Linked DNA regions of Homo sapiens. The protein of the gene in region 1 purifies or fractionates together with the protein of each later gene. This does not show direct contact. Each region holds a gene or a part of one and is shown in the gene's direction. Other genes may lie near its edges. The genes, in order: CYYR1 and PTPRF.

What was found.
Region 2: the proteins of CYYR1 (region 1) and PTPRF purify together in Homo sapiens (affinity purification with mass spectrometry; one large-scale study listed by BioGRID and IntAct). This does not show direct contact.

The regions. Positions count from the first base shown.
Region 1 is NC_000021.9:26,469,002-26,472,611, reverse strand, and holds part of CYYR1 (cysteine and tyrosine-rich protein 1 isoform 1 precursor), read left to right. Parts: intron 1-913; exon of another isoform or gene 914-1,861; intron 1,862-3,610.
Region 2 is NC_000001.11:43,617,803-43,621,269, forward strand, and holds part of PTPRF (receptor-type tyrosine-protein phosphatase F isoform 1 precursor), read left to right. Parts: coding exon 1-109; intron 110-827; coding exon 828-947; intron 948-1,245; coding exon 1,246-1,400; intron 1,401-1,485; coding exon 1,486-1,771; intron 1,772-1,877; coding exon 1,878-2,056; intron 2,057-2,292; coding exon 2,293-2,419; intron 2,420-2,651; coding exon 2,652-2,777; intron 2,778-3,035; coding exon 3,036-3,190; intron 3,191-3,294; coding exon 3,295-3,430; intron 3,431-3,467. UniProt on the Homo sapiens protein: Possible cell adhesion receptor. It possesses an intrinsic protein tyrosine phosphatase activity (PTPase) and dephosphorylates EPHA2 regulating its activity.

The DNA.
Region 1 (3,610 bases):
AACAACAAAAAATTCACTCAATATGAATAACAAACAGTGGACAAGATGTAAAACAGTGTCAAACCTAGCTGTTATCAAAAGAAATGATCAAGTAAAACAAAGACCTAAATTTTTACTTAATTTACTAAAATATTAAATGATAATGTACTTGTATACCCTTACAAGATGAAATAATTATTTTTGAAAGTAGTTTTATAATGTATTCTAAGCAATAAAATGTATGTGTTACTTAAGCCAGCTAATTAATTCCTGGAATTTTATTCTAAAAAAAAAATAATTAAAAAGTCTATGTGTAAGAAGATATTCATCATTACATTAATTATAATAAAAAATTAACCTCAAAATAGTGAATAGTGGATGGAATAACTGCTAAGGCAGCCATTAATAAAGCTTATGAAGAATATGCAGCAGAATGAAAAGACTTGCATTGTAATACAAAGTGAAAAAGTATAGGCCATACTCTGTGACTGCAAGGATGCAACTACGCACAAATGACTAAGAGACAGTATTTAAAGATATGATTTGTTAAATTGGGGTGACAAAATTATGGATGATTTTCTTCTGTTTCCAAATTTTCTGAAATAATTGTGAATAGTTTGGGTAACACCACGCATCTTCCCACCACATTAGCTTTAGAAATATTGGCCTGAGTGGGTAGAAAACATTACATTTCTTCTCCGAATTTCATGGTATTGCTAAATGTTTTAATATTGTAGACAGCTGTATCAGATGTTGAGGATAAATGGCCTATTTACCCTACTTAAATAGGAGATTAGAATATTGGTTATGAAAGGATTTCAAAGGCACGTATCTCCAGCTGCATACATACAACTTTTAAGTATGATTTCACCTGTAAAAAAAGAACAAAACCGCTTAGGATGAATCAGGAATTCTAAAATTGATACTTGAAAAGTTTACTTCCAGTGAAACTTTATTATGTGCAAGAAAGAAAGATAATACAGCCCACAATTATACAAATATTATTTCAAATGTCTTCCAGTGGCTGATATTATAAAAGATGTGCCATGTTTATATCTTGATGCGTAGTCCTCAAAATACCACTCTTTAACATTACATCAGAACTTTACCAAAATTCAAAGGTTGTATGAATGAAAGACCACTGTCATATCTTAGATTTTCATGTTCAACATGCAGCTGCATAAACCATAGGGATTCTTGCTGAAATGTCCTTCAGCAGTTTTTATGCAGATGGCAGAATATAAACGCTTTGTTACAGACGCATAAACACATGCCATGGCTTCATGACAGAGAATGATGTAGAGTCAATCTGCAGAATCAGCTGGTGTATGCTCCTCAAGTGGGAGGCAGGGAAAAGCTTTGGCAGAAAAACAGCATAGAACCACATGCTTATAAGAAACAGATCAATGGGTTTCCTGCTGCATGGAGGCTGCCGTGTTTCATTCTTGGCTTGGATGAAGTTTGTTATAAATCTCTTTGTCTCAGTGCTCCTAGATATAATGAAGTCGAGGCGTGGGTATAATGCAGAGGGAATGTGTATTTAGACTCCACAGGACTTACTCCATTTTTTTGCAGGAAACAGAGCTTGGAGTAGCCCAGCCTCCAAGGGTCTGAGGGAGCACTGGGGAAACTGTATATATGCATCCTCGCTGATGTATTTACAGAGCTGTGTTCTCGGCTGAACGCCCTCAGCCTGCCCAGCGCACTAGAGACTTGCAAGACTTTTGCTCCACCAAGGAGTGCTCAGGGGACATCCCACTCAGTTCTGTGGCTCCTTCTTCCTCTTCTCTTTATTGGCTCAATTCTGCTTCCTCACATCCTCCAAGTACAGGGCAATCAGTCAGTGGTTCAAATCATCAAGCTCTTGGTAAAGATAGGCAAACTAAAAAGATCCAGAAGAAAATTGTATTAGTCCATTCTCACACTGCTATAAAGACATACCCGAGTCTGGGTAATTTATGGAGAAAAGAGGTTTAACTGACTCACAGTACCACTGGATGTACAGGAAGCATGGCTGGCGAGTCCTCAGGAAATTTACAATCATGGCGGAAGGGGAAGGGGAAGCAAGCACATCTTCACGTGGCCAGCACAAGACAGAAAGAAGAGGGAAGTGCTACACACTTTGAAACAACCAGATCTTGTAAAAACTTCATGAGAACAGCAAGGGGGAAATCCACCCCCATGATCCAATCACCTCCCACCAAGTCCCTCCCCCAACATTGGGAATTACAAAATGGCATGACATTTGGGTGGGGACACAGAGCCAAACCATATCAAAAACATAGTTTTTTTCTGCATATCAGTGGAAGCCCTATGTATGTCTATGTCTGTTTATCAGAACACTGTCAAATTCTTATTAGAAAGAGTACAAATTAAGGTTCGTTTGCAAAAGCAATTGCAGTTTTTGCAATTACTTTAATGGCAAAAACTGCAATTACTTTTGCATCAACCTAATAGAAGACATTTAGAAAAGTTTGTTGAAATGTTGTGTGTTCCTTTCTGCCATTCTAGTATTAAGAGCATGCCCACTTATTTGCATTATTATGACACTGGTCTTGTGATTTGGGTTACATTCACAGTAGGCAATTAAGGCATGTCAGTTTCCAAGCAGCATCAGGATCCTGATGATGATTCAGCTACTGGCAGTTCATCAGACTGGTTGCTGAGGGAGTTGCTCAGATGTTGCAAAATGATTCAGTTCTTGGAAACGTGGATAAATTTCAGCTCAAGGAGTACTTCTTTTTCAACACTAGAGAAAGGAACTGAAACCACTACAAAATAGACTTTTATGTATAGTCATCATAAAGTATATTAAAAGGTAGAACAGAGGATACTAGAGGCTGAGAAGGGTAGGAAAAAGGATGGATAGGGAGAAATTTATTAAAGGATATAAAATTACAGCTAGATAGGAGGAATAAGTTCCAGTGTTCTATACCACTGGATGACTATAGTCAACAATAATATATAGTTTCAAATGGGTAGAAGGAGGATACTAAATGTTCCCAGCATAAAGAAATGACAAATGTTTGAGATGATGGGTATGCCAGTTGCCCTGATTTGATTATTATACATTATGCATATCAAAACATCACTCTGTACCCCATGAATATGTACAATTATTATTTGTCAATTCAAAAAAATAAAATTATTTAAAATTTAAAAACTTTCTTAAAACACTGACATATGGTACAGTAACAAAATAAAGAAAATTTTTCATATAAGATTCAGAAAATTAAATGTTTCATCTTCATTTCCTAACCTACTTGTCCTCCTTTTTTGTCTTCTTCATATTTCTGTAATGGTTCCACCCCCCTCCAATTATAGGAGTCCTGTACTTGGTACCTAATACCTCAACCCCTTCTTTCACTTTCTCCTCTCTTTCTCCACACACCCAGTCATCACCTAAAGACTTGGTTGCTCAAGGACTGTTAGAATGTTTTTCCCTCACTGTCATGAGTCCCTTATCATCCCTCACATATGCCATTACATTGTTGCAGCTTTTCTTTTATCTACCTCTGCCTCTGTTGACTGCTGAGAGTGGTTTTCTCAAAGCATATTCACTACCATGTTCAAAGAATCTCTGATAGCTACATGTTATACATTCTACATTGCATTCAGAGCCCACCATGGT
Region 2 (3,467 bases), on another chromosome or scaffold:
CGCCACGCAGGGCCCCCTGCCCGAGACCATGGGTGATTTCTGGAGGATGGTGTGGGAACAGCGCACGGCCACTGTGGTCATGATGACACGGCTGGAGGAGAAGTCCCGGGTGAGGCTGCAGGGCCCTGCCAGGAGGCGGGTGGGAAATGCCCAGCCACAAGGTGATACAGGGCACCTTCTTCTGTGCCGCTTTCTTCTGTGGAGGAAGTCGCTCAAGTGATCCCCAGATGCTATTGTTACTGGGGGTATTATGCTCCCCAAATACTGGGTGTTTCTGGGATACAGCATGTTCCCCACATGCTAGTGGGTTCCTTAAGATGTTAATATGTTTCACCAAATGCTGTCATTTTCGGAGAATGTTAATGTGTTCCCCAGTTGCTGGCGTGTTCCCGGGGTATTCATGTGTTCCCCAGATGCTGGAGTGTTCCTGGGGCATTAACACATCTCCTAAGTTAATTAGTGGAAAGAGCTGCTGTTATCTGTTTTTGGACTGCAAAGCATTGACTGGAACGTAAAATTTACAGAGCTTGAAAATGGCACATAAACGTTATGGGTAAATTTGGCAGAAAATGTGCCTGGTGCGATCTGGCGTTGAATAAATAATTTTCAATTATGACCCTTATTCCACTAGCTAGGGCAGGGCGGTGACATAGCTTGAGGACCTGATGTGGCTTGTGGAGGACAGGGGGCAATGGATCTGAGAGCTCAGGGCTGGGGGGCTTTGTAGCCAGAAAGGCTACAGCCAGGGAGTTGACCAGCCTCCACCCTGCTTCTGCCCGTCTGAGCCTGTGGGCTTCCTTCAGCCTGCCCTGCTCATCCTCCTGCAGGTAAAATGTGATCAGTACTGGCCAGCCCGTGGCACCGAGACCTGTGGCCTTATTCAGGTGACCCTGTTGGACACAGTGGAGCTGGCCACATACACTGTGCGCACCTTCGCACTCCACAAGGTATAGCCTTTCCCCAGTGCATATCTCTTACCCAGACACTGTAAGGACAGTGGCCTGGGTGTGGTGTGCTGGGTCGGGGGGAAGCTGGAGCCTGGGTGTTGGAGGGTCGGAGGCTCAGGTGTGTGAGTGATGTGATGATCCATGTTATGGGAACAGTGCTAGGAGCTTCAGGCTACTCTGTGTGGCTTCTGAGTCCCATGGGGAAGTGGCGGGTATGGCCTCAGCATCAGGTCATTCAGTCCTGAGTCTATGGCAGGTAGGCTCCTAGTCGCCAGTATGTCCCCACTTTGTCCCCCAGAGTGGCTCCAGTGAGAAGCGCGAGCTGCGTCAGTTTCAGTTCATGGCCTGGCCAGACCATGGAGTTCCTGAGTACCCAACTCCCATCCTGGCCTTCCTACGACGGGTCAAGGCCTGCAACCCCCTAGACGCAGGGCCCATGGTGGTGCACTGCAGGTGAGAGGGTACAGTGCCACCCAGAGGGGTGGGTGGGGTGGGAGGTGGGGGCGCCTGTGCCTCAAGCTGAGCCCGTGTCCTGCAGCGCGGGCGTGGGCCGCACCGGCTGCTTCATCGTGATTGATGCCATGTTGGAGCGGATGAAGCACGAGAAGACGGTGGACATCTATGGCCACGTGACCTGCATGCGATCACAGAGGAACTACATGGTGCAGACGGAGGACCAGTACGTGTTCATCCATGAGGCGCTGCTGGAGGCTGCCACGTGCGGCCACACAGAGGTGCCTGCCCGCAACCTGTATGCCCACATCCAGAAGCTGGGCCAAGTGCCTCCAGGGGAGAGTGTGACCGCCATGGAGCTCGAGTTCAAGGTGGGGCTCGGGTGGGCCTGCTTGGCTCCAGGGCCTAGACTGGGTCATGCAGATGACCCCCACCCCCACAGGAAGCCTGGCCTGACCAATCCCTGCCTCTCAATAGTTGCTGGCCAGCTCCAAGGCCCACACGTCCCGCTTCATCAGCGCCAACCTGCCCTGCAACAAGTTCAAGAACCGGCTGGTGAACATCATGCCCTACGAATTGACCCGTGTGTGTCTGCAGCCCATCCGTGGTGTGGAGGGCTCTGACTACATCAATGCCAGCTTCCTGGATGGTTATAGGTCAGCATGCATGTCACTGCCCCACCATGCCCTACAGGGGCCTAGGCCTGTGCCTGGCTGGTGGGGGTGGGCAGCAGAGTAGGGCCAGCCTAGAAGACCAGAGAGGGCTGGGTAGAGCAGTGAGGACTTCCTGGAGGAGGGGTGATCTGAGCAGGGCCCCAAGGGGCTAGGCAGCCTAAGGGGAGACTCTAGGGGCAGCAGCACCTCCAGCATGTCCAGTCTTATGTCCACCCCAGACAGCAGAAGGCCTACATAGCTACACAGGGGCCTCTGGCAGAGAGCACCGAGGACTTCTGGCGCATGCTATGGGAGCACAATTCCACCATCATCGTCATGCTGACCAAGCTTCGGGAGATGGGCAGGGTGAGCCCACCCTTTCCCCCAGGGCCCCTGTCATACCTGGGAGAACACCAGCCACCCTTGGGGGAGCTGCCGCCTATGTTACTGTCTCCTTTGACACCCCAGCTGCTTGTCAGCATGGCCTCAGGCGCCCGTTATTACTACCTGAGGCATCTGTCCCAGAATCCTGTGAAGCCTGGCACCCCTCCCCTATTCCTTCTCACCTGATTATGGGGGCCCGACCCTCTGTCCACAGGAGAAATGCCACCAGTACTGGCCAGCAGAGCGCTCTGCTCGCTACCAGTACTTTGTTGTTGACCCGATGGCTGAGTACAACATGCCCCAGTATATCCTGCGTGAGTTCAAGGTCACGGATGCCCGGGTGAGTGAGTGCATTGAGTGTGTCCATAACGCTGCCTGTCCACACGCTGGGTGGATGGCTGCCTGCATGGTACCTTAGCTCAAGCTTCAGAAATCTGAGGCGGTGGGTGGGTATTAGGGTGTGAGCACATCTCCCCCTGTGGCCTCGGGTGCAGTGACACAGATGCATGCCTGTATCATGGTACTACCCTGGTCTAGTCCAGAGGGGTGGCTGCCTAAGGCACGAATTCTAATCATGTACCCCACCCACCTTTCCCAGGATGGGCAGTCAAGGACAATCCGGCAGTTCCAGTTCACAGACTGGCCAGAGCAGGGCGTGCCCAAGACAGGCGAGGGATTCATTGACTTCATCGGGCAGGTGCATAAGACCAAGGAGCAGTTTGGACAGGATGGGCCTATCACGGTGCACTGCAGGTGGGACTGGCCCCCTGGAGGGCTGGGGTGGGTGGGCCTGAAGGCCTGGCAGACCCACTGCATGAGGCAAGCAGGACTCCTGACCCAACTGTGTTTCTGAGCAGTGCTGGCGTGGGCCGCACCGGGGTGTTCATCACTCTGAGCATCGTCCTGGAGCGCATGCGCTACGAGGGCGTGGTCGACATGTTTCAGACCGTGAAGACCCTGCGTACACAGCGTCCTGCCATGGTGCAGACAGAGGTAACGCAGACCAGGCTGCAGGGCCAGGGCCTTGGCA